Linked DNA regions of Homo sapiens: region 2 is linked to region 1. The links come from fine-mapping of genetic effects on gene expression. A gene starts in region 1. The other region holds a variant in brackets. All regions are shown on one strand. Distances are between the middles of the regions. Region 1 holds the start of ZNF341 (zinc finger protein 341). Region 2 overlaps ZNF341 (zinc finger protein 341).

Region 1 (14,583 bases):
AACCAAACAGAATTTCTAGAAATCTACTTCTACTGCTCCCATGAGGAGTCAGTCACAAAGTCCTGACATACGGCCCGGCATCAGAAGGTGTTTCGAAACTATTTGGTTTGGCAAGTTCTTCCTGGGTGCTCTCTTTTGCTAAGTACTTTCTCACATAGTTGAATAAGTTTCTGCCCTCAAGGGGCCCTGCAGGGTGCTAAGGATAGAGTTGCAATAATGGGGACGCTTATTATCTGGTGACCTTTTTAATTTTACGTAACTCTGAGTTCCTCAGTGCAGGGCCTGTTTGTTCACCTTTGCCCAGTAAGCACTTACAGAGAGTACAGTACTGAGTACTGCCTGTGGGCCAGGGATTGTTTCCTGAGTGCTTTCTTTTCTTTCTTTCTTTCTTTTTTTTTTTTTCTTTGAGACACAGTCTTGCTCTGTCACGCAGGCTGGAGTGCAGTGTGGCGTGATCTTGGCTCACTGCAACCTCCGCCTCCCAGGTTCAAGCCATTCTGCTGCCTCAGCCTCCTGAGTAGCTGCGATTACAGGCACCCACCACCACGCCCAGCTAATTTTTGTATTTTTAGTAGAAATGAGGTTTCACCATGTTGATCAGGCCGGTCTTGAACTCCTGACCTCAAGTGATCCTCCCGCCTGGACCTCCTAAAGTCACCGCGCCTGGCCCTAACCTTTTTTTTTTTTTGAGACAAGAGTCTTGCTCTGTTGCGCCCAGGCTGGAGTGCAGTGGCGCAATCTCGGCTCACCGCAACCTCTGCCTCTCAGGTTCAAGTGATTCTCCTGCCTCAGCCTCCCTAGTAGCTGGGATTACAGGTGCCCGTCACCATGTCCAGCTAATTTTTTTTTTTTGTATTTTTAGTAGAGATAGGGTTTCACTGTGTTGGCCTGGCTGGTCTTGAACTCCTGACCTTGCCAAACTCCAAGGCCCACCTCAGCCTCTCAAAGTGCTGGGATTACAAGCCTGAGCCACTGTGCCTGGCCGGACCTCGTTTAACCTTAATTAGCTCTTTATTTATTTATTTATTTATTTATTATTTGAGACAGAATCTTGCTCTGTCACCCAGGCTGGACTGCAGTGGCGCATCTGCCTCCCGGGTTCAAGTGATTCTCTTGCCTCAACCTCCCGAGTAACTGCGATTACAGGTGCGCGCCACCATGCCCAGCTAATTTTTGTACTTTTAGTAGAAACAGGGTTTCACCATGTTGGCCAGGCTGGTCTTGAACTCCCGACCTCAGCTAATCCACCCACCTCAGCCTCCCAAAGTGCTGGGATTACAAGCATGAGCCATCGCACCCGGCCCCTTAATTAGCTCTTTAAAGACTCAGGTTACAGTTACATTCTGAGGTACTAGGGGCTAGGACATCAACGTATGAATTTTGTGGGGAAGACACAATTCAATCCATAACAGCCACATGCTTTGCTGCTTACTACCAACACCAACCAACCTAACAAGATGTCAGGACCCAGCATTGCCTTGTGTGTCAGCACATTCTTCCCCTTGTAGCTGGGAGTCTGATTTAAGCATGAGATTCTTCCCTCCCCACAGAGAAGTTAATTTTTCTGGGGTGGCTGGAGCACTCACTGTGGAGTGGGACACTGGACGTTTCCCACTCTCCCTCCTCCCTGCTTGACCCCTTGCCTGGAATTATTACATTACCTACCCCAGGAGTCTCTAAGCTGTGATTGGATTCTGTTCGGTGCCAACCAGGTAGCCCCAAGGGAACTGGACATGTGACTGATAAGTGTTTGGTGGATGAAGAGATGCCAGTAAGGGGTGGAAAGTTTGGAGTGGGGGCAGCCTGACTGGGGAGCCTGCCAGAGGTGGGGCTCTACCTCCCTGAAACTCATTCAGTTCCATCGGTCAAGCCTTCAGTGAAGCATTTCCCAAGTTGCCTCTGTGCCAAGCCCTGGGGTCCAATTTGTGTGTGTGGGGGTGGTGGTGGGGTTCTTTTTTGAGATGAAGTCTTGCTCTGTAGCCCAGATCTCAGCTACAGGTAGCTGAGACAACAGGTATACTACAGGCATATGTGGCTCATATCTCAGCTTGCTGCAACCTCTGCCTCTTGGGTTCAAGCGATTCTCCTGCCCCAGCCTCCCAAGTAGCTGGGATTACAGGCATGCGCCATCATGCCTGGCTAATTTTTGTATTTTTAGTAGAGACACAGTTTGAGACAAGAGTCTTGTCTGGTCTTGAACTCCTGACCTCAGGTGATCTGCCCACCTGGGCCTCCCAAAGTGCTGGGATTACAGGTGTGAGCCATGGCGCATGGCCAAGCTCCTATTGTTGCAGGCGTTTCAGCAGGAGAGAACAGCATATGCAATATGCATCTATGCAACAGCATAGATGAAAATCTACTCTGCATATGCACCTGGTGGTATGGAAATATATGGGAAGCTGGCCAGGCACAGTGGCTCACATCTGTAATCCCAGCACTTTGGGAGGCCGAAGTGGGTGGATCACGAGGTCAGATCGAGACCATTCTGGCTCACACAGTGAAACCCCGTCTCTACTGAAAATACAAATACCCATACATCACTTATTACTCTCAGCTGCCCCTTTACAGTTCTTGGCCTCTTTTCATTTTGGCCTCAGGGCCTTTGCACTTGTTGGTCTCTCTGCCTTTCTCTTCTCTTTTCACATTGCTGACTCCAGCTTATTTCTCAGGCCCACTTCCTCAGACAGACTCCCCCTGACCATTCTGTCTAAAAGTAGCTTCCCCTCTTTCTGGAAAAAAAGTATTTAAAGTCATAGAAAATTTCTCTCTTTCTCTTTTTTTTTCCCCTTGTTTACAGCCCATCTCACCTAGCTAGACTAAGACTCCATGAAGGCAAGGATTTTTGTCTTTTGGTTCATGCCTGCATCCGCAGCATCTAGAATGGTGTCTAGCACACAGTAGGTGCTCAACAAATATTTTGAAAGTAATCAAATAAATGTGAACATATTCATTTCTTATTTGAATAATAAAACTAAAACAGGCCGGGCGTGGTGGCTCACGCCTATAATCCCAGCACTTTGGGAAGCTGAAGCAGGCAATTGCCTGAGCTCAGGAGTTCGAGGCCAGCCTGGCCAACATGGTGAAACACTGTCTCTGCAAAAAATACAAAAATTAGCTGGGCATGGTGGCAGGCACCTGTAGTCTAAGATACTTGAGAGGCTGAGGCACGAGAATCTCTTGAACCCGGGAGGTGGAGGTTGCAGTGAGCAGAGATTGGCCACTGCATTCCAGCCTGGGCAACACAACATGACTCTGTCTCAAAAAACAAAAAATAATAAATAAATAAATAAAACAAAAACAATAGGTATACTTTGCAGGCTTTGGTGATGCAGACAAACAAAGAATAGTTATATGGAGAAACTTGCAGGGGAGAGGGGAGAATCTGAGGCCATTGGATCAGTGAGCATGTTAGAGACAGGGAGGAAGGAACCCTGACTTTACCCTGCCAGCAAGGCAATGGAAGGGGGCGCTCACAGCTTGGGGTGTGCCCTTCAAGATTCCCAGGAAGGTAGGTGGGGTGTGGTGTCTTGGAGAAGAGTGGATTTCCTCTTTTTTCTTTTTCTCCTTTTTGTGGAGAATGGGGTCTCACTGTGTTGCCCCAGCTGGTCTTGAACTCCTAGGCTCAAGCGATCCTCCAGCCTCTGCCTCCCTAAATGCTGGGATGACAGGCTTGAGCCACTGCCCCTGGCAGGTTGGGTTTTCTGTGGGGAACATTTGCTCAGGGCTCACTGTGCAGGGGGGAATGGGAAGGGAAATGGAGGTAAGGGGGTAGCAGTGGTGTGCACAGGGGTGGTGTTCAGGGAAGTACAAGGAGTTCACCGGCAGAAATGGGCCTTGAGGGGGTAAATAGGCAGAGAGTCTGTGAGGCTATTCTGTGAAAGGGCCATATATACAAAGTGGTCCCCAAATGCCAACGGAGCCAAAAAACCAAGGAATGAGGCAGACAAATTCAGTTTGTCAGTAAAGGGTGTTTTAATGGGGGATCTTAAAAGCAGCATGGGCTTGGGCGGCAGCAAGACAGGAGATCTCTCCCTCTGTTACCCCAAGACTTAGGCCTTATATTCCACAGGGAAAGAGTTTTAAGTGCTCTCTGCAAGACAATTAAAGGAAACTTCCAGAGCAGACAAGAATGCTGTATGTTTCATAGCTTATAATTTATGCAATAACATCAGGGCGGCATATAGCTTATAATTTGTGCAATAACATCAGGCTGACTAGGGACAGTAAATAAAGTAGGAATCAGGAGGCATTCACGGGACTGGGGCTAATCAGAAGTCAACATGGGGGATTAGCATCCAAGATGGAGTCACTTTTGTCTCCACAGAGACAACTTGTCAGGAACAGTGGCTAGCAGGGTTCCCCAAGGGGAGAGGAACTTTGAAAAAACAATTTTAAAAAATTGTAGTTCACAGGTCTCAAACTCCTGGGCTCATGCAGTCCTCCTGCCTTGGCCTCTCAAAGTGCTAGGCTTAGAGCAGTGCGCCACCATGCCCAGCTGCAAACAAATAATTTTTAATTGTAGGAGTTATATAGTGAATACAAGAAAATGAAAATTATGATATTTGTTATTTATTTAGCTGAGGCTAAAATAGGTATTTTAGTAAAACCAATGAGAACATTTAGAGTCCAATCCATGGTTGTCCCGTTGTATGACGATGTGGCCATGATCATGGGAGAGATTCATGATTGATGGTGACAAAGATTCTTTGCTTGCTGTAACTGCTTGGTCAGACTTTGGAATCTTCTGCTAGGCCCACCTGTGCACTTCTTTGTAAAATCTAGTTTTCACAAAGAATGCTTTAAGTCAGTTTAGCAGGAACCCCCATCCTTAATATTTAATCATCCTAGATATCTGATCAGGTTCCTCATCTGTCACCATCTCCTAGGTGATGTTGATTACCCTAGCCCATCTTCAGCAAGAATCCTGTTAGGTCGGTTTAGCCAGAATTCCCCTTACCTCCGATGTTTCCTCTTGGTAATTTTCTATCAACTGACCTCCCTACCCCCAGCCCCCATGATGTTCCTCGGCTATAAATTCCCACTTGCCTATGCTGTATTCAGAGTTGAGCCCAGTCTCTCTCCCCCACTGCAAGGCCCCTTTGTAGTGGTACCTATCGCAGTAGTTCTGAATAAAGCCTTCCTTATTGTGTTTGTGTTTTAGCAAAGATCATTGAACAATTTTTTTTCTTTTTTTTTTTTTTTTTTTGAGACAGGGTCTCATTCTGTCACCCGGGCTGGCATGCAGTGACATGATCATGGCTCACTGCAGCTTTGACTTCTCTGGCTCAAGAAATCCTCTCACCTCAGCATCCCTACCTAGTAGCTGGGATTATAGGTATGTGCCACATACCTGGCTAATATTTTTAAAAATCATTTGTGGAGATGCTGGTCTGACTATGTTACCTGGGCTGGTCTCCAATTTCTGGGCTCAAGCAATCCTCCCGCCACCTCAGCCTCCCAAAGTGCTGGGATTACAGAGGAGCCACCACACCCAGGTAAATAATTTTTTCTTTTTCTTTTTTTTTTTAAATTTGAGATGGAGTTTTGCTTTTGTTGTCCAGGCTGGAGTGCAGTGGCGTGATCTCGGCTCACCGCAACCTTCGCCTCCCGGGTTCAAGCAATTATCCTGCCTCAGCCTCCCGAGTAGCTGGGATTATAGGCATGTGCCACCATGGCCACCTAATTTTATTTATTTATTGTTTTTAAGTAGAGACGGGGTTTCTCCATGTTGGTCAGGCTGGTCTCAAACTCCCGACTTCAGGTGATCTGCCCACCTTGGCCTCCCAAAGTGCTGGGATTACAGGCGTGAGCCACTGTGCCCGGCCTAATTTTTTCTTTAACAATAGCCCCTTCCTTAGTTTCCCCCTCCCCTCTATGCACTCCCTAAACTCTTGCTTGTTTCCCAAGGGTACTTTGAAACCACTATCACACATTGATTATTGAGAAAGGGTCTCACTCTGTTGCCTAGGCTTGAGTGCAGTGGTGAGATCATAGCCCACTGCAGCCTCTACTTCCTAGGCTTAAGCAATTCTCCTGCCTCAGCCTCCTGAGTAGCTGGTACTCAAGTGCAAACCACCATGCCCAGCTACTTTTGTTGTTGTTGTTGAGACGGGGTCTCACTATGTTGCTCAGACAGGTCTCAAACTCCTGGATACAAATGATCCTCCAGCCTCAGCCTCCCAAAGTGCTGGGATTACAGGTGTGAACCACTGTGGCCGGCATACACATTGTAATTAAATAACCTTTAAGATTTAATGTCGGTCTTTTTTTTTTTTTTTGAGACAGAGTCTTGCTCTGTCGCTAGGCTGGAGTCTGTGGCACGATCTCGGCTCACTGCAACCTCTGACTCCCTGGTTCAAGCAATTCTCCTGCCTCAGCCTCCCAAGTAACTGGGATTACAGGCACGTGCCACCATGCCCAGATAATTTTTATATTTTTAGTAGAGACGGGGTTTCACTAGGTTGGCCAGGATGGTCTCGAACTCCTGACCTCGTGATCCGCCTGCCTCGGCCTCCCAAAGTGCTGGGATTACAGGCATGAGCCGCCGCGCCTGGCCTAATGTCGGTCTTTCTTCCCACCTCTAACTCCATGGGAAAGGACCACCATGTCTCTAGAGCTATTACGGGACTTGGTGCATAGCAGGCCGTTAATAAGCAGTTGATGGAGGATGAATGAAGATGAGAGGGGTCTGTGTGTGTAGGGGAAGTCCCAGTGAGGAGCACCTCTCATTCTGTGAGACCTGGATAGGACCCCTCGGAGGCTGGGCTAGGAGTGGCTGGGGTGGGTGTTGGGGGTTTATGTGACAGAAATGGGGTCCCAACAAGCAGGGATGGAGGGTGAAGAGATGGAGTTACTTAAGAGATAATGGGATCCCCAGCACGGAGACCCACGCCTGTAATCCCAGTGCTTTGGGAGGCCGAGACGTGAGGATCGCTGGAGGCCAGAAGTTGACACCAGCCTGGACAAAATAGTGAGACCCTGATCTCTACAAAAAAATAAAAATAAAAATTAGTAGGACATGGTGGCGTGTGCCGGTAGTCCCCGCTACTCTGGAGGCTGAGGCGGGCTCCCAACAGGCAGAGTTGAGCAGGGTAGTAGGGGCGGGAAGTCTCTAATAGGGGATGAGGGATGGGAATCTATGTTGTACAGCCTGGAGATCCCTGTGACAGTTGGGTGGTCTGGGTGAGATGGGATAGGGGTCATGGTTTGTTGCAGAGTCGGGGTATACTGTGCTCAGCGGAAATGGGGTCCGTGCAGCAGACCTGGAGGACTCACGTGCTGTGGGAATGGGGGATTCTGTGTCAGAGCTGGGGGGTCGGGTCCGGTGAGATGGGGATGCGGATTTAGATAATAGGGATGGGAAGTTCCGCGTGTGCGGCGGATATAAGGTCGGTGTAGACTTGGTCGTTCAAGTGAGGCGGGGTCCACACTCGGTGGCCCGGTGACTGGGTTATCGAGTGGAGCCAGGGCAGCCCAGAGATGCTGGGGTCCCGCGAGCCTAGGTTGGGTTTCCAGGGCTGGGGGCTCGGCGGCGGCTCCTGGGCGCCCCCTGGCGGCCCCGACTCAACCGCCACGGCTCCCACAATGCTCGCGTAGCCGGGCTTCGGTTCCTGTGGCGGCGACGGCGGCGGCTCCAAGATGGCGCAGGCGATCTTTGAGGCCCTGGAGGGTGAGCGGCGGCGGGGCCGGCGGAGGCGGCTGTTCCGCGCTGCGCCCCCTCCCGCCGCGCCCTCGCAGCGCCCGGCCTAGGGCGCGCAGCGGCCGCGGGGCGGAGGGCGCCGGGGCTGGAACAGCCGCGGGGCGGGAGGGGCGCGGGCGGGAACAGCGCGGGAGCCGAGGCCCGGCGGGGGAGCTCCGGGGCCGGAACAGCCGGGGAGAGCCAGGCCGGCGGGGAGGGGGCTCGGGTCCGGAACAGCGCCAGCCTGGGCGGCCTTGGGCGGGCGCGGGAGGGGCTCCCTGCAGGGAACTGCGCGGGAGGCGACGGCGGGGCGGTCTGGAACAGCCGCGGCCAGGGAGGCGGCTTGGCGGCGCGCGGGGCCCGGGACGGGGGTGCGGTCGCAGCTGCGGGCAGGAGGGCCTCGGCGGCCTGACCACGAAGAACTTCTGCGGAGCGGACTGTATGCCTCGTGCTAGGACGTAGTCTCAAAATCAGACCACAGCAGCAGAGGCGCCACCTGTGTGCACAGCCTGGACTCAGAGCTTAGGGACCCAAGCCAGCAAACACCTGGCGCCTGCAGTGCGCACCGTGGCCGGTGCAGTTTTACAAATTAAACTGACACCGTGGGTGCTGGCGCGGTGTGCCCGGCCGGGACGCGGTGTTCCCAGACCCAGGCCAGCAAACGCTGGGTGCCGACAGACTGTTCCGTGCTCTGCAAGAACCTGGGATGGGGTTGGTGCTCAGGCTCAAAACTGTGGGCTTTGGAGACAGCAAACACTGAGCACCTCCATGTGTGCATCTGCTGGGCGTCGGGGAGGAAGGGCAGCCTTAGCGACTCGGGGCCATGGCGCAGAATAGATATTGTGGGAAATACAGACCAAGAATGGTCTTGGAGGAGTGGGATGAGATGAGTATACAGATAGGGTGCAAACTCGAAGTACTGGACTGGCGGGATGAAGCTGAAGCTTTGAGTCCTGCAGCTTCCTAGGAGATCTCAGCCACTCCCTGCACTTTTTAATTTTTTGAGACGGAGTCTCACTCTGTCGCCCAGGCTGGAGTGCAGTGGCGCGATCTCGGCTCACTGCAACCTCCCCCTCCCAGGTTTGAGCGATTCTCGTGCCTCCGCCTCCTGAGTAGCTGGGACTATAGGCGTGCACCACCACACCCGGCTAATTTCCTTTTTTTTTTTTTTTTTTGAGACAGAGTCTTGCTCTGTTGCCCAGGCTGGAGTGCAGTGGAGCGATCTCGGCTCACTGCAACCTCCGCTTCCCGGGGTTCACGCCATTCTTCTGCTTCTTCTGCCTCAGCCTCGAGAGCAGCTGAGACTACAGGCATCCGCCACCACGCCCGGCTAATTTTTTTTTTTTTTTGTATTTTAAGTAGAGACGGGGTTTCACCGTGTTAGCGAGCATGGACTCGATCTCGTGACCTCGTGATCCGCCCGCCTTGGCCTCCCAAAGTGCTGGGATTACAGGCGTGAGCCACCGCGCCCGGCCATTTTTTTGTATTTTTAATAGAGACGGAGTTTCACCATGTTGGCCAGATTGGTCTTGAACTCCTGGCCTCAAGTGATCTGCCCGCCTCAGCCTCCCAAAGTGCTGGGATTACAGGCGTGAGCGACTGCTCCAGGACTCCCTTCACTTCTTGAAGGATCACAATTCGCACCAGGAAATGGGGGGCGGGGTAGCCCTGTCTCCATCTAGTGGGGTTCCGATTCAAAGACTGACTGAGACAGACACTCCCTGTAGTTTCTGCCCTGCAGTCTGGTAGAGGAGAGAAATTATAAAACAAGCAATTATAGAAATTATAGAATTATGGAAAAGGTCATGTAGAATAAGATGACCTCAGCTGGCCATTCCTACTGTGAATAACATAAGCAGGAGGTGGTGGATCAGGAAGGCCGAGGTCAGTGGTAGTTCCCTCCCAGAGGCCAATAGAATGGGGTGAGGCTTACTTTCTCTTTAGGCTGTTTGGACTTCCTCATTGTTTGAATATTTACTGCAAGAATGTGTTTGTGTATTGAGTAATGAAGACAGTTAAAGAGAAATCAGTTCCTAGGACAGTGGGATGCATGTTGGGTGAAGAAAGGGCAGCAGGACTGTGGAGATCTAGGGGAGGAGGGCAGGAGAATGGCCCAGGCAGCAGGAACTGCATTTTCAAAGCCCTGGGGAGAAAGGTCTCCTGGGATTCACAGAAGCTGGGTGTGGGTGAACTGCTAGAGATGGGGTTTGATGGAGCAGCTAAACTTTATCTTGGGATCAGTGTGGAGCTAACAAAAGGTTTTCAGCAGGGGAGCAGCACAATGTGATGTATGTTTTATAAAGTTCACCCTAGCTGCTCTGGAACAGACTGGAGGGGGCCAGAGTGGCAGTGGGGGGTCGGGGTGGAGGCTGCTGAGGTTGTACAGCAGAGAACTGGGCTGGTAAACAACTGTGGGGATGGAAAGACAGTTTATTTGAGATGTATTGGGGAGACAGAATAGGCTAGACTTGCAGAAGAACCAGAAATGGGGAGTGGGGAGGGGGAGCAGTGGGTTGAGGGAAGACCCAAGTGGTGCCGCCCCAGAGGGTGCCCTGGTGCCCTGTTCTCCTTGATGAGGATTACTGGAAGAACAAACTTTGGGGTGGAGGATGACATTTAATTCAAGTTCAGTTTTACACAGGCTGCCTTTTTTTTGTTTTTGAGACAGCATCTCACACTGTCTCCCAGGCTGAAGTGCAGTGGTGCAATCTTGGCTCAATGCAGCCTCCACCTCCTGGGTTCAAGTGATTCTTGTACCTCAGCCTCCCGAGTAGCTGAGACTACAGGCACATGCCACCACGTCTGGCTAATTTTTGTATTTTTAATAGAGAAGGGGGTTTCACCATGTTGGCCAGGCTGGTCTCAAACTCCTGACCTCAAGTGATCCACCCATCTCTGCCTCCCAAAGTGCTGGGATTACAGGCATGAGCCACTGAGCCTGGCCCAGGCTGCCTTTTTAATTTAATTTAACTTAATTTTTTATTTTTTTGTGACACTCTCACTCTGTCACCCAAGCTGGACTGGGGTGGTGCGATCTTGGCTCACTGCAACCTCTGCCTCCCAGGTTCAAGCGATTCTCCTGCCTCAGCCTCTTGAGTAGCTGGGATTACAGGCGCTTACCACCACGCCTGACTAATTTTGTATTTTTTAGTAGAGACGGGGTTTCACCATGTTGGCCAGGCTAGTCTCGAACTCTTGACCTCAAGTGATCTGCCCGCCTTGGCCTCCAAAGTGATGGGATTGCAGGCGTGAGGCACTGTGTCCAGCCAGCCTTTTTTATTTTTATTTGTAGAGACAGGATCTCACTCTGTCTCCAAAGCTGGAGTGCAGTAGTGCATTCATAGCTCACTGCAGCCTCAAACTCCTGGGCTCAAGTGATCCTCCCACCTCAGCCTCCCAGGTGCGTGCCAGGACACCCAGCCAATTTTTTAAATTTTCTAGAGATGAGGTCTTGCTATGTTGCCCAGGTTGATCTTGAACTCCTAGCATCAAGCAGTCCTCCTGCATTGACTTCCCAAAGTGTTAGGATTACAGGCATGAGGCACTGTACCCACCCTGCATTTGTTTAAATTTTTTTATTTTGAAATCACTTTTTCTGTAGATTCACATGCAGTTGTGGGAAATGATAAAGAGAGATCCCACGTGTCCTTGACCCCATTTCCCCTGGTGTAACATTTTGCACAACTACAGTGTGTTACCACCAGTCAACATACAGAACAGGGGCATCACTCCAAGGAGTTGCCCTTTTATAGCCACACCCTAAATCCTCCCCTTCTCCCACCATCCTTGATGCCTGGCAACCACTAATCTGTCTCCATTTGTAAAATTTTGTGATTTCAAGAATACTATATAAATGAAATCATAAAGTGTATACCATTGAGATGGGCTTTTTTCACCCGTCATAATTCCCTAGTGATTCATCCAAGTTGTTGTGTATAGCAATAGTTTGTTCCTTTTTATTGCTTAGTAGTATTCCATAGTATGGCTATTTCACCATTTAACCACTCACTGAAGAACATCTGAACTGTTTCCAGTTTTTACTATTTTTTTTTTTAGACCCTGTCTCAAAAAAAAAAAAAAGTAAAAACTGGAAACAGTTCAGATGTTCTTCTGAACCATTTCCTACACCCTCTATCTCCTCTACTACCTTCTGGCCCTCCTCCCCCACTCTAGTGGGGCTTAAGCCCCCCACCATTCTGAAACTGCCTCTGCAAAAATTGTAACAGTGAGAAAATCATGACAGAGAAAGACGCCTGACCTAACCAATCCCTACCTTGCCTTTAACCTCCAAACTGCCCTTAGTCATCCCCGGGCTTGGGCCAAGCTAACTTCGGCAGAAATTTAATTTACAGTTTAAATGATAATAGCCCTTCCCCAAAACTAAACTGTCTTTGTAAAGCTATTGAAAGACCACCAGGTTTTCACCTGGGCAACATGGGGAGATTCCATCTCAAAGTGTTCACTGTTGCCCAGGCTGGAGTGCAGTGGCATGATCTTGGCTCACTGCAACCTCCACATCCCAAGTTCAAGCGATTCTCCTGCCTCAGCCTCCCGAGTAGCTGGGACTACAGGTGCGTGCCTCCACACCCAGCTAATTTTTTCTATTTTTAGTAGGGACGGGTTTCACCATGTTGCCCAGGCTAAATTTTTTACTGTTATACCTAAAAGTGCTATGAACATTTGTATACAGATTTGCACACAAATGCTAAAACACTCACAATTTTGCATAAAATGGTAGAAGATTCACTGAAGCTTGTTCAGGAGAGCTTGAACCCCAGGCTTGAAACTCCAGATATTGGAAGGAAGTAGACTGGGGTGAGTGAGACTGCCCAGGGACAGCATGAGAGGCAGAGGTGAGAGAGTCCAGACAAAGGAACAAAGGACAAAGTGTTTCCTCAAAATGGAAACACTTAGGGGGTGGCCAGGAGAAGAGAGTAAAGGAGGCACAGAAAGGTAGAGAAGACCCAGGAAGGCTGTGCCCTGGAGCCAAGAACAGAGTGTTTCAGGGAGTGGCAGGTGCTGCCAGATGGTCTTTGGTGATGATGGGGAAAGTGTTTTGGTGGAACTGTAACCATCCAATGGGTTCATTTTGCCTGCTGCCCAGATACAGCCAATTTATCAAGACAGGGGAATTGCGACAGAGAAAAAGTTACATTCACACAGAGCCAGCTGAACAGGAGACTGGAATTGTGTTATTACTCAAATCAGCCTCCTAGAAAATTCAGAGACTAGGTTTTTTATTTTTATTTATTTATTTATTTTTTATTTTTTATTTTTTGAGACGTAGTCTCGCTCTGTTGCCCAGGCTGGAGTGCAATGGCGTGATCTCACCTCACTGCAACCTCCGCCTCCTGGGTTCACGCCATTCTCCTGCCTCAGCCTCCCAAGTAGCTGGGACTGCAGGCACCTGCCACCATGCCCGGCTAATTTTTTATATTTTTAGTAAGGATGGGGTTTTACCGTATTAGCCAGGATGGTCTTGATCTCCTGACCTCATGATCTGCCCACCTTGGCCTCCCAAAATGCTGGGATTACAGGCGTGAGCCACCATGCCCAGCCAGACACTAGGTTTTTTCAAAGATAGTTTGGGGGACAAGGGAATGGGTGCTGTTGATTGGTTGGAGGTGCAATCATAGAGTTGTGGAAAATGGTCCTCCTACATGCAGAGTCTGCTTCTGGGTGGGGCTGCAGGACTCATTGGCGAGTCTACGTGGAGCCATTGGTTGTCAGAAATGCAAAAATCTGAAAAGATATCTCAAAAGGCTAATCTTAGGTTCTATAATAATGATGTTGGGGCCAGGTGCGGTGGCTCACACCTGTAACCCCAGCACTTTGGGAGGTCAAGGCGGGCAGATCACCTGAGGTCAGGAGTTTGAGACCAGCCTGACCAACATGGAGAAACCCTGTCATTACTAAAAGTACAAAATTAGCCAGGCATGGGGGCGTGTGCCTATAATCCCAGCTACTCGGGAGGCTGAGGCAGGAAAGTTGCTTGAACCCGGGAGACAGAGGTTGCAGTGAGCCAAGATTGCGCCATTGCACTCCAGCCTGGGCAACAAGAGTGAAACTCCATCTCAAAAAAAAAAAAAAAAGTTGGCCAGGCGTGGTGGCTCATGCCTGTATTCCCAGCACTTTGGGAGGCCAAGGTGGGAGGATCCCTTGAGTGCAAGAGTTTGAGACTGTCCTGGGCAACATAGGGAGATTCTATCTCAAAATAATAATAATGATAATAATATTATATGCAGGAGTAATTGGGGAAGTTGCAAATCTTGTGATCTCTGGAATAATGGCTGGTAATATTTATGTCTACACCTTACCAGAATGTAGGTTCCTCTTATCCTCCTAACCTCATGGTCTTTCATTAGCTTCACAAAGGAGGGTTAGTTTTGGGGAAGGGCTATTATCATTTAAACTGTAAACTAAATTTCTCCCTAGTTATCTTGGCCCAAGCCCAGGGATTACTAAGGGCAGTTTGGAGGTTAAAGGCAAGATGGGGGTTCGTTAGGTCAGGTGTCTTTCACTGTCATGATTTTCTCACTTTGCAACTTTTTCAAAGGTGGTTCCAGATAGTGGAGGGCTTAAGTCCCACTAGAGTGGGGAAGGAGAACTGGAAGGTGGTAGAAGAGATAGAGGGTGTAGGTGACCCTCATGGGATACTTGCCATTGAAGGGAGGAGAGATGGAAACATGAATTTGCAGGAGGGCACTCTGGAGAGACTGATCGTGTGTAGCTGTGGATGGTTCCCAGGCACAGTGTGGTGAGAGTTGGTGGAGAGTGGCTTCTGAGGAGCAGGAGGAGATGGAGGGGAGGGCTGCGCTGGCAGCGTCAGGAGGGACACAGCCTGCATTGTGACAAGGGAAGGCATGGATTCAGTTTGGCTGCAGTAGCTGATGGTTTCAATTTTT
Region 2 (14,583 bases), 60 kb after region 1:
TTGTATTTTTAGTAGAAACAGGGTTTTGCCATGTTGGCCAGGCTGGTTTCGAACTCCTGACCTCAGGTGATCCTCCTGCCTCGGCCTCCCAAAGTGCTGGGATGACAGGCGTGAGGCACTGCACCCAGCCTGTGTGAGGGACTCTTGACTCTGCCCCCTGTGGTGGGGACACTGCTCTCACTGTAAGTTCCCACTCAAACCTGAACAAAACGCCATCTCCTTGGTTCCCCAGTTGAAACACACTGACATTTTCTTTTCTATTAATCTTTAGATTTTTTTATTAGTTAAATTTTTTAATTGCTTTTTAATTGAAAAGGATCTAAAGATTGAGAAAACTTGAGGGAAAATCCTTGACGGGACAAAAGCATATATAAAAAAATAAACTCCCTCTCACTTCAGATGGACAATCCAATGTTTTTCCTTTTTTTTCTTTCCTACGACCTATGGTAAAAAATACATTTCATATTGCAACCCAGGAAGCACACATAGGATGTATTGCAACAAAAGTTTTACAAAACAGTGTTTTCTATTTTGTCCTTTTCAATTTTAGTTTTTTTATTTTTTATTTTTATTTTGAGACAGGGTCTCACTCTGTCACCCAGGCTGGAGTGCAATGGTATGATCTCACTACAACCTCCGCCTCCCAGGTTCAAGCCATTCTCGTGCCTCAGCCTCCCGAGTAGCTGGGATTACAGGCGCCCACCACATGCCTGGCTAATTTCTGTATTTTCAGTAGAGACGGGGTTTCACCATGTTGGCCAAGATGGTCTCAAACTCCTGGCCTCAGGTTACCCACCCACCTTGGCCTCTCAAAGTGCTGGGATTACAGATGCAAGCCACCACACCCAGCCTATTTTTAATTCTTAAAATAACCACCAACAGGGTGTAACTTGTGGTTTGCAGTTTGCAAAATACTCCTAATTCTCTTCCCCAAAGGTAACTGTTAGCGGTCTAGTCTGCATTCTTCTAGTTTTATTTTACACATATATAAAACGCTTGCTTACGTTTGCAAAAATGAGCACATACTATAACTTATGTGCCTTTTTTTCCTTATCATATACCTTGGCGATGTTCCCCAAGGAATGTGTGCTTACAGTTCCCCTGGAGGCTAAATTCTGTGGGTCCCCCTCCCCCGGGCCCCCCCCAGAAGTTGTTACCAACAGCACCTTCTTTTTCACATCTGAGTAGTCTTCCTCAATGAATTTTTCATCTTGTATTTAGCCAGTTCTCTATGTATGAACCTTTTTTTTTTTTTTTTTTTTTTTTGAGACTGAATGGCACGATCTTGGTTCACTGCAACCTCTGCCGCCTGAGTTCAAGCAATTCTCCTGCCTTAGCCTTCCAAGTAGCTGGGATTACAGGTGTGCACCATCACGCCCAGCTAATTTTTGTATTTTTAGTAGATATGTGGTTTCACCATGTTGGCCAGGCTGGTCTCGAACTCCTGACCTCAAGTGATCCCCCCGCCCCAGCCTCCCAAAGTGCTGGGATTACAGGCATGAGCCATCACGCCCAGCCTATGTATGAACCGTTAAATTACATTTCAGCTATTAGTTTGTACACACAATGCTGTGTGGGTCCCTTGGCAAGCTTTTGGAAGTGTATCTGTAGTGTATATTCTTAGGAGTGGAAATGCTAGGTTAAAATGCATGTGTAATACTGAGTTTCAGTTTGGGATGATGAAAAAATTCTAGAGACAGATGATGGTGATGGTTGCATGATGGTGCAAATGTACTTATGCCACTGAACTATACACTTAAAAGAAGCTTAAGATGGTCAATTTTCTGTTATGTATATTTCTCCACAATAAAGAAGGGAAAAGAAGTAATGCATTGTAAGTTTGATATTACCAAATTGCTCTTTATGGCTTTTAAAAATTATTATTCAAAAGTAATACATGCTGCCAGGCGCGGTGGCTCATGCCTGTAATCTCAGCACTTTGGAAGGTGAAGGTGGGTGGAGCACCTAGGTCAAGAGTTTGAGACCAGCCTGGCCAACGTGATGAAACCCCGTCTCTACTAAAAATACAAAAATTAGCCGGGTGTGGTGGTACGCACCTGTGATCCCAGCTACTCAGGAGGCTGAGGCAGGAGAATTGCCTGAACCCAGGAGATGGAGGTTGCAGTGAGCCAAGATCAAACCACTGCACTCCAGCCTGGGCAACAGAGCAAGACTCTGTTTCAAAAAAAAAAAAAAAAATACAAAAAACGAAACAAAACAAAACAAAAAAAACCACACAAATAATACATGGTTATTATAAAAATGGAAACAATATAGGAGTACATAAAGTAAAATGTTAAATTTCCCCTTCAAGTTGTAGTTGCCACTGACACTTTGGTCTGTCCTTTCCCTACACCTCCCCATCTTTCTTCCTGCATCTTCAGTTTATTTACAGAGACACATGGCCAGGGCTTTTTTGGGGTGTGCAGGTTGTATTTTTTCTTTCTTTTTTTTTTGTTGGAGCTTACATATCCAGTAGGGATTATATTTTTTTCTAAGAAAGACGAGATTGTGTTAAGCTGTTCTACTGCTTTCTTTCCCCACTAGCAGTATGTCCAGGAGATCTTTCCAGATCAGGAAACACAGATTGACCTTTTTAATCTTTTTAATGACCACAGAGCATTCTATTGTAGGGACCAGCATTTCCGTATCGACTGGGTTGATGGTTTTTCAGAAGTACTTTATTCATTCCAGAGGGAGAACAGAGAGGAAATAATGGCAGGAAGTCACAGCAGCCCAGAAACAGCCCCTTCCAAAGGGCAGGCTGTGACCCCACGGCAACTTTGCAGGCACCTCCCTTGATTTCCTGTGGGTTCCTCAGGTAGCCCATCAGGCAAGAGCTGCCCCAGGACGGGTTTAACAGCAGGAAGATCTGGGTAGCTCAGATGGGCTCTGGATCACGCTGCTGGGCTGGAATCTTAGCTCCCGCAACCATAGGGGTAGCCCCTGAGCCAGTCCCTTCACCTCTCTGAACTTCAGTCTTCTTTCTTATCTGTGAAACAGGGATGATGGGAGTCAGTGCCTCCTGGTTTTTTGGAAGGATTCAGTTAGATAAGGTGTGATTCCTCGTCCCCCAGGGTGGACCGCATTGCCAGAAATGACATGAGGCCACCTTGCTTCTCAGGCCGTGCCTCATCCTTGACTCCTCTCCTCCTCTCACAGTCACAGCCAGTCCAGTGGCAAGGGCTGCCGACTGTGCCTTCCCAACATGGCTGTCCTGGGCCACTTCCTGGTTATCCTCACCTCCACCCTCATTCGAGCTGGTTAAAAGCTTACATCAGAGTCCATCCCTCTGCTGTTCAGACCTTCTGGTGCTTCTCTTCTGGCTCAGAGTAAAAGCCAAAGTCCTGGCTGGGCGCGGTGGCTCATGCCTGTAATCCCAGCACTTTGGGAGGCCAAGGCAGGTGGATCACTTGAGGTCAGGAGTTCGAGACCAGCCTGGCCAACATGGTGAAACCCCCCATCTCTACTAAAAATACAAAAATTAGCTGGGCGTGGTGGCACACACCTGTAATCCCATCTACTCAGGAGGCTGAGGTAGGAGGATTGCTTGAACCCAGAAGGCAGAGGTTGCAGTGACTCACCTGAAATCTTGCCACTGCACTCCAGCCTGGGTGACAGAGCAAGGCTCTGTCTCAAAAAAAATAAATAAATAAAAGCCAAGTCCTTAGCTCTGCCTCCCAGGTCCTCCCATGCGGACCTGGCTGGCTCGCTGCCCTCACCTTCTGCCTTGTTCTCTGGCCACACCAGCCTCCCTGTTGTTCATCAGCACCGCCAAACGCACTCCTGCCTCAGGGCCTTTGTACCTGCTTTCCCTGCTGCCCAGACCATCTCCCTGATGACCTGAGGTCTCTCCTCATGCATGGCCTCATCAGAGAGGCCTCTCCTGACCATCCTGTCAAAATAGCCCTGTCTTGTCTCTGGCAAAACAAAGCCACTGAAGAATGAGAGAGGCTATTTTCTCCCCTGGCCACCTCCCTAGAGGAGCTGCTCCCCTGAGGGGCCCAGCGGGGACCCTTGTGCCCTGGATGCCGACTCCTGGTGAGTGCTGGCTCTCCCTGTCTGTGTCTGCTGCAGGTGAGAAGCCCTACAAATGCTCAGTGTGCGAGTCTGCGTTCAACCGCAAGGACAAACTGAAGAGACACATGTTGATCCACGAGCCCTTCAAGAAATACAAATGCCCTTTCTCGTGAGTAGAGACTGCCATGCAGGGGGGTGGGTAGCGGGACAGATTCTCCAGGGGTGCTGCTGGGGAGGGTGGGACAGATGTCAGGCCTGAGGGCAGGCCTCTCCTTTTTTTTTTTTTTGGAGACATAGTCTCACTCTGTCATCCAGGCTGGAGTGCAGTGGTAAGATCTTGTCTCACTGCAACCTCTGCCTTCTGGGTTCAAGCGATTCTCTTGCCTCGGCTTCCCAAGTAGCTGAGATTACAGATTTAGTAGAGATGGAGTTTCGCCATGTTGCCTAGGCTGGTCTCGAGCTCCTGACCGCAAGTGATCCATCCACCTCGGCCTCCCAAAGTGCTGAGATTACAGGCGTGAGCCACTGTGCCTGGCCAGGCCTCTCTCCTTTTATCCTGTCCTGGGCCCTGCCTGCCTCACTTCCCACCCTACCTCCTTGCCCAGCCCTTAGGGTGGACAAGGCTGTCCCTTGTGCCCAGGGCTAGTGGAGGGGCCAGCAAGAGGATCCTAAGCTTGGTGAGCTCCCCCTGACCAGTGGCTTTGGGTTTTAGGACGCACACAGGCTGCAGTAAGGAGTTCAACCGGCCGGACAAGCTGAAGGCCCACATCCTCTCCCACTCTGGTAAGTGGCTCTTGGGCCTGCTAAGAGGGTCTGGTTCAGCTCTAGTTCACTGGGATAGACCCGCCAGGAAGAGAAAGAGCAGACATATCCTGTGAGGCTTGTTTTCCCTGCCTGGCACATTCCAGCCAGCACTTTCACTTATGTGGGCTATGAGCCAGGCCTGTGTTAGGGACTTAAGGGTGAACAGAGATGAATCAGACACAGTCCCCCAGTCCAAGGAGGAAGCTGACCTGAGCAGAGATGACTCAGTTGGAGCAGTGCCCAGTGTAATAGAGGTGTGGACGAGGTGTGGAGGGAATCAGATTCCAGCCAGGTCCAAGACATGGCCAGGAAGCTTCTTTGATAGGGCAGGGCAGGGGTCTCCAAGCCACTCCTCAGTTTCTCAGCGCCTCCTCAGAGCAGCCTGGCTGGCTTTCCACATGCCAGCCGAGGTCTAAAACAAGGTTCTTCAACCCTGGCACCATTGACAATTTGGGCCAGATAATTTTTTTTTTTTTTTTTTGAGACGGAGCCTCCCTCTGTCACCCAGGTGGAGTGCAGTGGTGTGATCTTGGCTCATTGCAACCTCTGCCTCCCAGGTTCAAGCGATTCTCTTGCCTCAGCTTCCCAAGTAGTTGGGATTACAGGTGCCTGCCACCACACCCAGCTAATTTTTGTATTTTTAGTAGACATGGGGTTTTCACCATGTTGGCTAGGCTGGTGTCGAACTCCTGACCTCAAGTGATCTGCCCGCCTTGGCCTCCCAAGGTGCTGGGATTACAGGTGTGAGCCACCGGCGCCTGGCCTGTAATCCTGTAGATAATTTTGTCCTGGGGGCTGTCCTGTGCCCTGTAGGATTTTTAGCAGTATCCCTGGCTTCTATCTACTGGTGTCAGTGGCATCCCCCCACAGTTGTGACAACCAAAAATGTCTCTAGGCATTGCTGAGTCCTCTGGGGGGTAAAGTCTCCCTTGTTTGAGAAGGTTTACAGAAAGGAGTCAGTCACTAAAGAAAGTGTGAAAACTGGGAGAGTAGGTCAATGACTTGGACACACAGGGCTGGGTTGGAGTCTTAGTGCTGCCATGTTCCTGTGGGTGGCCTCAGGCGTCACGGCCCCTCCCTGAGCCTGAGATGACCTGGCAAAGCGAGCCAAGGTGCAGAGAGTGAGCAGCTGTTCCAGGCAGAGGAGAATGGCAAGTACAAAGGCGCAGAGGGAGGAGCCAGCGTGGCATCTCTGAGGAGAGCGAGTGTGGCTGGCGCAGAGAGTGGCTGGAAGAAGGCAGACGACGAGGGTGGAGAGAGCTGGGGCCAGATCACACAGGTGCTGGTGGGGAAAGAGCCTGGATTTTATTCCCAGCGCAGGGCACTGTTGCGGGGTGAAGGTCTGGATGCTTCTCACTGACTTTCCCTTGCCCTCCAGGCATGAAGCTCCACAAATGCGCCCTGTGCAGCAAGTCCTTCAGCCGCCGTGCCCACCTCGCCGAGCATCAGCGCGCCCACA[C/T]GGGCAACTACAAGTTCCGCTGTGCTGGCTGCGCCAAGGGCTTTTCCCGCCACAAATACCTCAAAGATCACCGCTGTCGTCTCGGCCCCCAAAAGGACAAGGACCTGCAAACCCGGCGGCCCCCCCAGAGGAGGGCAGCCCCCCGCAGTTGCGGCAGTGGTGGGCGCAAGGTGCTGACCCCCTTGCCTGACCCGCTGGGGCTGGAGGAGCTGAAGGACACAGGGGCTGGGCTGGTGCCCGAGGCTGTCCCCGGCAAGCCGCCCTTCGCAGAGCCGGACGCGGTGCTGTCCATCGTTGTGGGTGGTGCGGTGGGCGCGGAAACTGAGCTGGTGGTACCTGGACACGCTGAGGGGCTGGGCTCCAACCTGGCTCTGGCGGAGCTGCAGGCTGGGGCCGAGGGCCCATGTGCCATGCTCGCTGTGCCCGTCTACATCCAGGCCTCCGAGTGACGGACCTGAGGTGTCTGTTTCCTGGGCAGGCCTGATGCTCCTGTTTGGGTCCAGGGCCCCTGGGGGCAGACCGGTGATCCTTACCAGTGGAAGCGAGCCATCGAGCCATTGGCAGAAATCCTGCTGAATGTCATTCAGAAACCTCAGCCCATGGTCGCCCTCCTGTGCCCCTCTCCTGCCGGAAAGCCCTGCAACATTCTAGGGTTGGGGGCAGGGCCATCCACGGTTTCTGGGCAGAGCCATGGTGGCAGGAGAGAGATGGCTGAAGCCTGAGCAGCCCAGAGTCCCGCTGGTCTAGGCTGGTGGTCGGGGCCCCTGGGAGAGGAGACAGGGCATTCCTCCCCACTCTGTCTCCAGGCTGCCTCTGGGTAGCCTCTAGTCTGCTGTTCTTCAGGAGGCCTGCCATAAACTCTTCGGAGTTTACGTGTTGCACCTTTTCACAGACGGTTCCCCACAGCATCCTCAGACAGCTCTGTGATGTAGCTTTTAGGAGGCACTCAGGTGTCACGGCTAGACTGCAGCTATGAGACAGATCTGGCTTCAAATCCAAGAGTTGCCATGCACTTGCTGTGTGACCTTGGGCAAGTCACTTCACTTCTCTGAGCCCCGTGTTCCTCATCTGTACAATGGGGCTTACGATACTACTACCTCATAGGGTTGTCCTGGGGATCCAGTATGATGAAGTGCGCCAGGGGCTTGGCATGGTGCCCGGCACGCAGAAAGTGCTCAATAAATGTTTTTGTCATAACGTGTCCGGGTGGCCTGGGCCAAGCTGTGGCAGTTTCCTTCTTTGCCCCTAGGTGGCAGCACTCCCCCTCTGAAGCTTGTGGTGGCTGAGGGGTCCCAGGCCCCTCACACAGGGAGCCCTGGAGAGATGATAAGGGAAGCAAGGCTGGGCACGGCAGCTCATGCCTGTAATCCCAGCACTTTGGGAGGCCAAGGTGGGCTGATCACCTGAGATCAGGAGTTTGAGACCAGTCTGGCCAACATGGCAAAACCTCGTCTCTAGTAAAAATACAAAAATTAACCGGGTGTGGTGGTGCACACCTGTATTCCCAGCTACTTGGGAGGCTGAGGCGGGAGAATCACTTGAACCCAGGAGACAGAGGTTGCAGTGAGCTGAGATCGTGCCACTGCACTCCAGTGTGGGAGACAGAGTGAGACCCTGTCTCAAAAAAAAAAAAAAAAAATTAGCTGGGCATGGTGGTGGGTGCCTGCAGTCCCAGATATGCTGGAGGCTAATGTGGGAGGATCACTTGAGCCCAGGAGGTTGAGGCTGCAGTGAGCTGAGATTGTGCCACTGCATTCCAGCCTGGGCAACTGAGCAAGACCCTGTCTCAAAGATTTAAAAAAAAAGAAAAGAAACGAAAAAAAAGAAAGGAAATTGGGAACACCCATCCACAGAAAACAGTCCAGGACAACACCCCATGGGGGTCGGGGTTTGTACTCACTTGTGGGAATTCAGGATAGTTAGCCACCTCCAAATCCGTTGTAAACAAGATCAGAAATCCCTCTCGTGTCGGCATCTGGAGGCCATCAATGTCACCGCGTCCAGTGCTTCCTCCTACCTCTCAGCTGGTCCCGGTGGGAGGTGGACCGGGCTCATGAGGAGGCGGGAAGGAGAAAAGGGCCTTGACTAGTGTTTTCCTGTTTATCTTCACAGCCACCCTTCTGGGCTGTTGGACTCCATTTGATGACTGAATTGTTTTGAAGGCTGGCAGGTCCCTCAGGCATCTGTGTTGGATCTCAGGGCTGGAACTCAGAGCCAGGCCCAGCTTCCCACATCCTCAGGAAGGGTGTGACGCGGCAGGAGGGACAGAGTTGATGGGGGTGAGGTGTGTAAGTGTACCGGCCTGCACAAAGGCCCGAGGGGGACTGGTGGGGACAGGAAGTCAGAGGGGATGCCCCTGGAGCTGGGCCTTGGCCCGGGGTGCTTTGATGGGTGGATGGATAGGGGAAGGTGTGCTGGGTGAGAGCAGGGCGCGTGCAAACACCTTGGGGTGGGACAGTGCCAGGCCTGCTATGTTCTGGGGCCGGCGGATGTTCCAGGGTGACCAGAGGTCTCAGAGGAGTAGGTGGATAATGATCATGGCTGTTGCTTCACCTTCTCCACACGAGGGACACTGTGCCAGGCTATTTACAGTCACGTCGCCTCAGCCTGTCATGTGAGTGCTGTTACTTTCTGTATTTTACAGCTGAGAAAACCCAGGCCCAGAGGGGTAAACTTCCTTACCCAAGCTCACACAGCCAGGAAAGCTGCAGAGCTGGGACTCAAGCCACGGCAGCCTGCCTCCATGGGTTCTTAGCCACTTTCCACGATTGAAGTGTGGGTTGATGAATCAGAGAGGGCCTTAGATGTGGGTTAAGGAATCTGGACTTTATTCTCCACATAATGAAGGGGAGTCATGGGAGACAGTGAACATTTTTAAAAGTTGTAACAATGGCATTGAAAGAAATGTGAAGAACGACATCTTCAGCCGGGTGTGGTGGCTCACTCCTATAATCCCAGCACTTTGGGAGGCCGAGGCGGGTGGATCACCCGATGTCAGGAGTTTGAGACTATCCTGGCCAACATGGTGAAACCCCATCTCTACTAATAATACAAAAAAATTAGCTGGGCGTGGTGGCACATGCCAGTAATCTCAGCTACTTGGGAGGCTGAGGCAGGAGAATCGCTTGAACCCGGGAGGCAGAGTTTGCAGTGAGCTGAGATCCCGTGACATTGCACTCCAATCTGGGTGACAAGAGTGAAACTCCATCTCAAAAAAAGAAAAAAAAATGACATCTTCTTCCTAATATAACTATTTAAGTGGTTTTTCTATAGCTTCTTCCTGTCAGTGCACACAGGCATACACGTCTACTGGTAATCACGAGAACTAACATTTATTAGTTATCGAATGAATGCCTGGCACCATCCCCAGCACCTCAATGTAGGCACTACTTTTAAGCCCATTTTGCAGCTGAGATGAGGCAACAGGCACATTAAGGTTAAGCAGCCCAAAGTCACACAGGAGGGAAGTAGCAGAGCCAAGCCACAGATAAGGACATACCAAGATCAGCTATAATGTTTAACAGAAAGTTGGTGACAAATCCCAGCACTTTGAGAGGCCGAGGCAGGCAGATCACGAGGACAGGATATCAAGACCATCCTGGCTAACATGGTGAAACCCTGTCTCTACTAAAAATACAAAAAATTAGCCAGATGTGGTGGCCCTGGAGCTGGTCCCAGCTACTTGGGAGGCTGAGGCAGGAGAATCGCTTGAACCTGGGAGGCGGAGGTTGCAGTGAGCCGAGATCATGCCACTGCTCTCCAGCTTGGGGGAGAGCAAGACTCTGTCTCATTAAATAAATAAATAAATAAATAAATAAATAAATAAATAATAAAAAAGAAAGTTGGAGATAGCTGCTCCAGGACCCCAGGGTCTGCCACCGAACTCCAAGATGCTGGACAGAGTGGAGCATAAAAAGGGGCTGGCCTAGGCATCCAGGGTCTCACTCCACCCCCAGAAAGATCACAGTTTTTTTACCGGGTGTGGTGGCTCACTCCTGTAATCCCAGCACTTTGGGAGGCCAAGATGGGCGGATCACCTGAGGTCAGGGGTTCGAGACCAGCTTGGCCAACATGGCGAAACCCCATCTCTACTACAAAAAATTAGCCATTCGTGGTTGCATGTGCCTGTGATCCCAGCTACTTGGGAAGCCAAGGCAGGAGAATTTGTAGAATCCGGGAGACGGAGGTTGCAGTGAGCCGAGATCTCACCATTGCACTGCAGCCAGGGTGACAGAGTAAACTCATGGACAGACTCTTACTCTAAGAGTAAACTCTGTCTCAAAAAAAAAAAAAAAAAAAAAGAGAAAGATTACAGTCTTTGGTATCAAGCAGAGCTGGGTTTGAATTCTGGCTCTGCCCCCTCCTAGCTGTGTGACTATGGCGAGTCACTTCACCTTTCTGAACCTCAGTTTCCTTGTGTCAGTGTGGAGAATAATAGTACCTACCTGGCGAGGTTGATGTCACAATTCACGGAAATAATTCAGGTAAAGCAGAGATCACAAATTGGCCGCTCATGGCAGCCTCCAGACAGTTTGGCATTCACAGTGTCTGAAAAAGTAAGCCAACGTTTAAAAACAAATTTAAAATATACTACAGTGGTGAAGTGTCAGGAATGACACAAGGATGCCTGCTGTTATGACTCCAATATTACATTAGTGGCCTGGCCAGAATAATAGAGCAAGAAAAAGAAATAAATAGTATCAGGATTGGAAAGGGTGAGATAATAGCAAGGGTGCTGAAATAATAGCAAGATCAATATATACAAATCTACTATGCTCCTATACTCCAGAAGCAATTAGAAAATGTAAAAAATTGGGACATTTGGGCCAGGCGTGGTGGCTTACACCTGTAATCCCAGAACTCTGGCAGGCTGAGGTGGGTGGATCATGAGGTCAGGAGATTGAGACCAACCTGGCCAACGTGGCAAAACCCTGTCTCTACTAAAAAATACAAAAAATTAGCCGAGCATGGTGGTGCGTGCCTGTAATCCCAGCTACTCAGGAGGCTGAGGCTGGAGAATCACTTGAACTGGGGAGGTGAAGGTTGCAGTGAGCTGAGATCATGCCACTGCACTCCAGCCTGGGCAACGGAGTGAGACTCTGTCTCAAAATAAATAAATAAATATATAAATAAACAAAAAAACTCATTTCCTCTGATAAGTTTTCCTTGGCCAATCTGTGTAACATAGCCCCACCTCCATCATTCTCGAATTCCTTACCCTATTTTATTTTTATACGTCACCCTTGACATTATATTAGACATTTGTTTATTGTCTGTTGTCCTCATTAGAAACAAAAGGTCCACAAAGGCATCGACTTTTGTCTGTTTTGTTCCTGAAGTATCTACAGTGCTTAGACCTTCCCAGGAATTGTTCAATCAATATTTGTCGAATGAATAAACAACAGCACTTTGAGAGAAGAAGGCTCACTTTACCCACCCGCTCCTCTCACCCCAGGGAGACCAGAGAATCTGTCATGTAGACCGAGATATGACTGACCCAGGGTCCTGGGAAGTAATGTCTGATATAAAAGGATATCTTCCTTTGTTCAAAGAGGGAGCAGAGAATATCTGGGCCAAATGACTAAGGCAGGTGGCTTGGAAGTCTCGACAGAGCAGGTGGAAGTCGACAGAGCAGGTGTCCCTGTGGCCCAGGGAACTGGTTGGACTAGTTTTGTCTCCTTTGGGGAGGAAGGAGTGGAGGTGGCAGCTACGGGTGCTCCCAACCCCCAAGGCTGCCAGCAAGTGACCCCCCCACACACAAGGCTTTCAGGGCCTGAAGGGTGGTGATCAGGGAGGTGAGCAGGCTCCATCTAAGGATTGGCAGTGACTTCTTACTAGCTGAGGGTGCCTCAGGTAGGCTTAGGCACAGAACCCAACTTTAGGGCCTTGCGTCCTTTGAAGAATCACAGAGAATAAACAGGCCCAGGGAGAGAAAAGGTCTTGTCCAAAGTCTCATCAAGGCAAGGCTGCTTCCCAGGCCACTGCTACCTCAGTCCACTTATTTATTGATTAAATATTTCTTGAGTACCTATGACGTGCCAAGCATAGTTCTTTGATGATACATCATGAGCAAAACAATCATTTGTGGAGATCCTTTGTGGAGGAAGCAGAAGATAAACAACAAAGTAAATAAGTAAGTTATAGATGTTAGGAGGTGACGAGGACTATAGAGAAGGAAAAAAAGTAGAGGTGAGTAGAGGTTTTGAGAGTTTGGAGGGTGCTGGTGTGTTTGAGGAAGAGTAGAGGGGCCAGTGTGATTGGAGTGAGGCACTGGAAAGGGGGAGGGCAAGGAGGTGACAGGAAAATCATGACATCATGTAGGGACTTGAGGGACATTGAAAGGACTTTGGGTTTTACTTGAGGGACGTGGAGAGCCATTGGAGGATTGTGAGCATTCAGTGACTGGATCCGACATACATATGTATGTCCAGTGTCAAAACATATATATGTGTGTGTGTGTACATATATGTATATATATATGTGTGTGTATATATATATGTCAGATGTCAAAAAAATATATATATATAATTTTTTTTTTCCTGAGACAGAGTCTCTCTCTGTCACCCAGGCTGGAGTGCAGTGGCGTGATCTCAGCTCACTGCAACCTCCAACTCCCAGATTCAAGCGATTCTCGTGCCCCTGCCTCCTGAGACTACAGGTGCATGCCACCATGCCCAGCTAATTTTTGTATTTTTAGTAAAGATAGGGTTTCACCATGTTACCCAGGCTGGTCTTGAACTCCTGGCCTCAAGTGATCCGCCTGCCTCGGCCTCCCAAAATGCTGGGATTATAGGGATGAGCCACTGTGCCCAGCCAAACACATATTTTTTAAAGGATACCTCTGCTTACCATGTAGAGAATGAGCTGGAAGGAATAAAGATGGAGACAGGAAGGCCAATGAGGAAGAGTATTAGGTTCCTCTTGCTTCTGTAATAAAGAATCAGAAACTTAGTGGCTTAAACCAACACAGATCTTATCACTCTGGAGGTCAGAAGTCTGATATGGTTCCCACTGGACTAAAATCAAGTGTTGGCAGGGCTTTGTCCTTCCGGAGGCTCTAGGGGAGAATCTGTTCCATTGTCTTTTCCGGTTTCTAGAAGCCACCTGCATTCCTTGGCTTGTGGCACCTTTCTCCATTCAAAGGCAGAAGGGCAGCATCCTGCCAGTCTCTGACTCTGAAACCTCTTGCTTCTGTTTTGTGATTACATTGAGGCCAGCTGGATAATCCACAATAAGCTCATCATTTCAAACTCCTTAACACTTCTACAAAGTCCATTTAAGGTGAGATTCTGGGGATGAGGACATGGACGTCTTTGAAGGACCATTATCCTGCCCACCAGGAGGCTACTGCAATAGTGCAGGCAAGAGATGATGGTGGCTTTGACCAGAGTAACCGCAATGAAGATGGTAAGAAATGATAGCTTTCTGGATATATTTTGATGATAGAGCCAACAGGATATTCTAAGGGATTGGATGTGGACTTTTCCTTCCTCGTGCAGGTAGACTTCTAGTCTACCTGTGCCTTGGGCCTGCGCCTGGGTGAGGATGAGGGTTTCCCTGGGGTAAAGTCCAGGGAGTCACAGTCATTGACTGGAGCCTGTGTGGCCGTCTAGGGCCTGCTGCATGGCCTGCATGTGGTCAGACAAATGGGTATGGAGTAGGCCCTGTAACCCACCATTAGCACAAGTGTAGGGTCCTTTCTGGTCAACAGTTTCACCCACCTCCCCCTCACTCCTCACTTAACCCCTCAAGTTCTGCTGGGTTGGGCCTTTCCTGCCCCCATCGCTTACTTTGCCCCACTCCCCTGGGAGGTGAGACCTGCTCCCAGGCCCACCACACTTTATTTATTTACCTGTTTGTAGGTGTGAGTGTCTCTCTGTTCATTCATTATTTGCATGTAGGCAGAATAGCACAGTGGCTAAACTGGTTGCCTTTACAGTAAGAATCCCAGCTCTGCCTCCTACAAGTGTGTGATCTTAGGCAAGCTGTCCAACCTCTGTTAATGTATAAAATGGGAACAATAAAGCCTACCTCATATAGTTGTTGTGTGGGCTAAATGAGGTAATGCATGTAAAATCCTCGGCTCAGTGTCTGGCTTAGCATAAAGTGCTGATGAAGATTCTCTGTTATTTTCTCACGGTTCAAGTGCCAACCAGTCCACTCAATAATGGTGTGATCTTCGGCAAGTTATTCAACCTCTCCAAGCTTCTGTTTCCTCAGCTGTAATCTGTAACTACCTCATAGAACTATAGTTGGATGATTAAATGAGATAATCTGGCTGGGCGTGATGGCTGACACCT

What was found.
Region 2: its variant is fine-mapped to the expression of ZNF341 in whole blood (TOPMed, PIP above 0.99).

The regions. Positions count from the first base shown.
Region 1 is chr20:33,724,384-33,738,966 of GRCh38, forward strand. It overlaps ZNF341 (zinc finger protein 341), which reads left to right and starts at 7,613. Exons shown (of 15, transcript NM_001282933.2): 1 at 7,613-7,669. The coding sequence starts at 7,639. LOC124904890 (a long non-coding RNA gene) reads right to left here and starts at 7,600. Exons shown (of 2, transcript XR_007067569.1): 1 at 7,263-7,600; 2 at 4,554-4,778. RefSeq lists enhancers at 7,184-7,243, 7,254-7,313, 8,982-9,685, 9,644-9,723 and a silencer at 7,424-8,133.
Region 2 is chr20:33,784,786-33,799,368 of GRCh38, forward strand. It overlaps ZNF341 (zinc finger protein 341), which reads left to right. Exons shown (of 15, transcript NM_001282933.2): 13 at 4,078-4,189; 14 at 4,733-4,803; 15 at 6,203-7,484. The coding sequence ends at 6,732. It overlaps ZNF341-AS1 (ZNF341 antisense RNA 1), which reads right to left. Exons shown (of 4, transcript NR_110623.1): 2 at 13,133-13,210; 3 at 10,729-10,831; 4 at 2,588-2,992. Among named protein-coding and RNA genes, the nearest start is that of ZNF341-AS1, 19 kb to the right of the region's middle. RefSeq lists a silencer at 892-941 and an enhancer at 7,358-7,652. The variant C/T (reference allele first, on the strand shown) is at 6,284.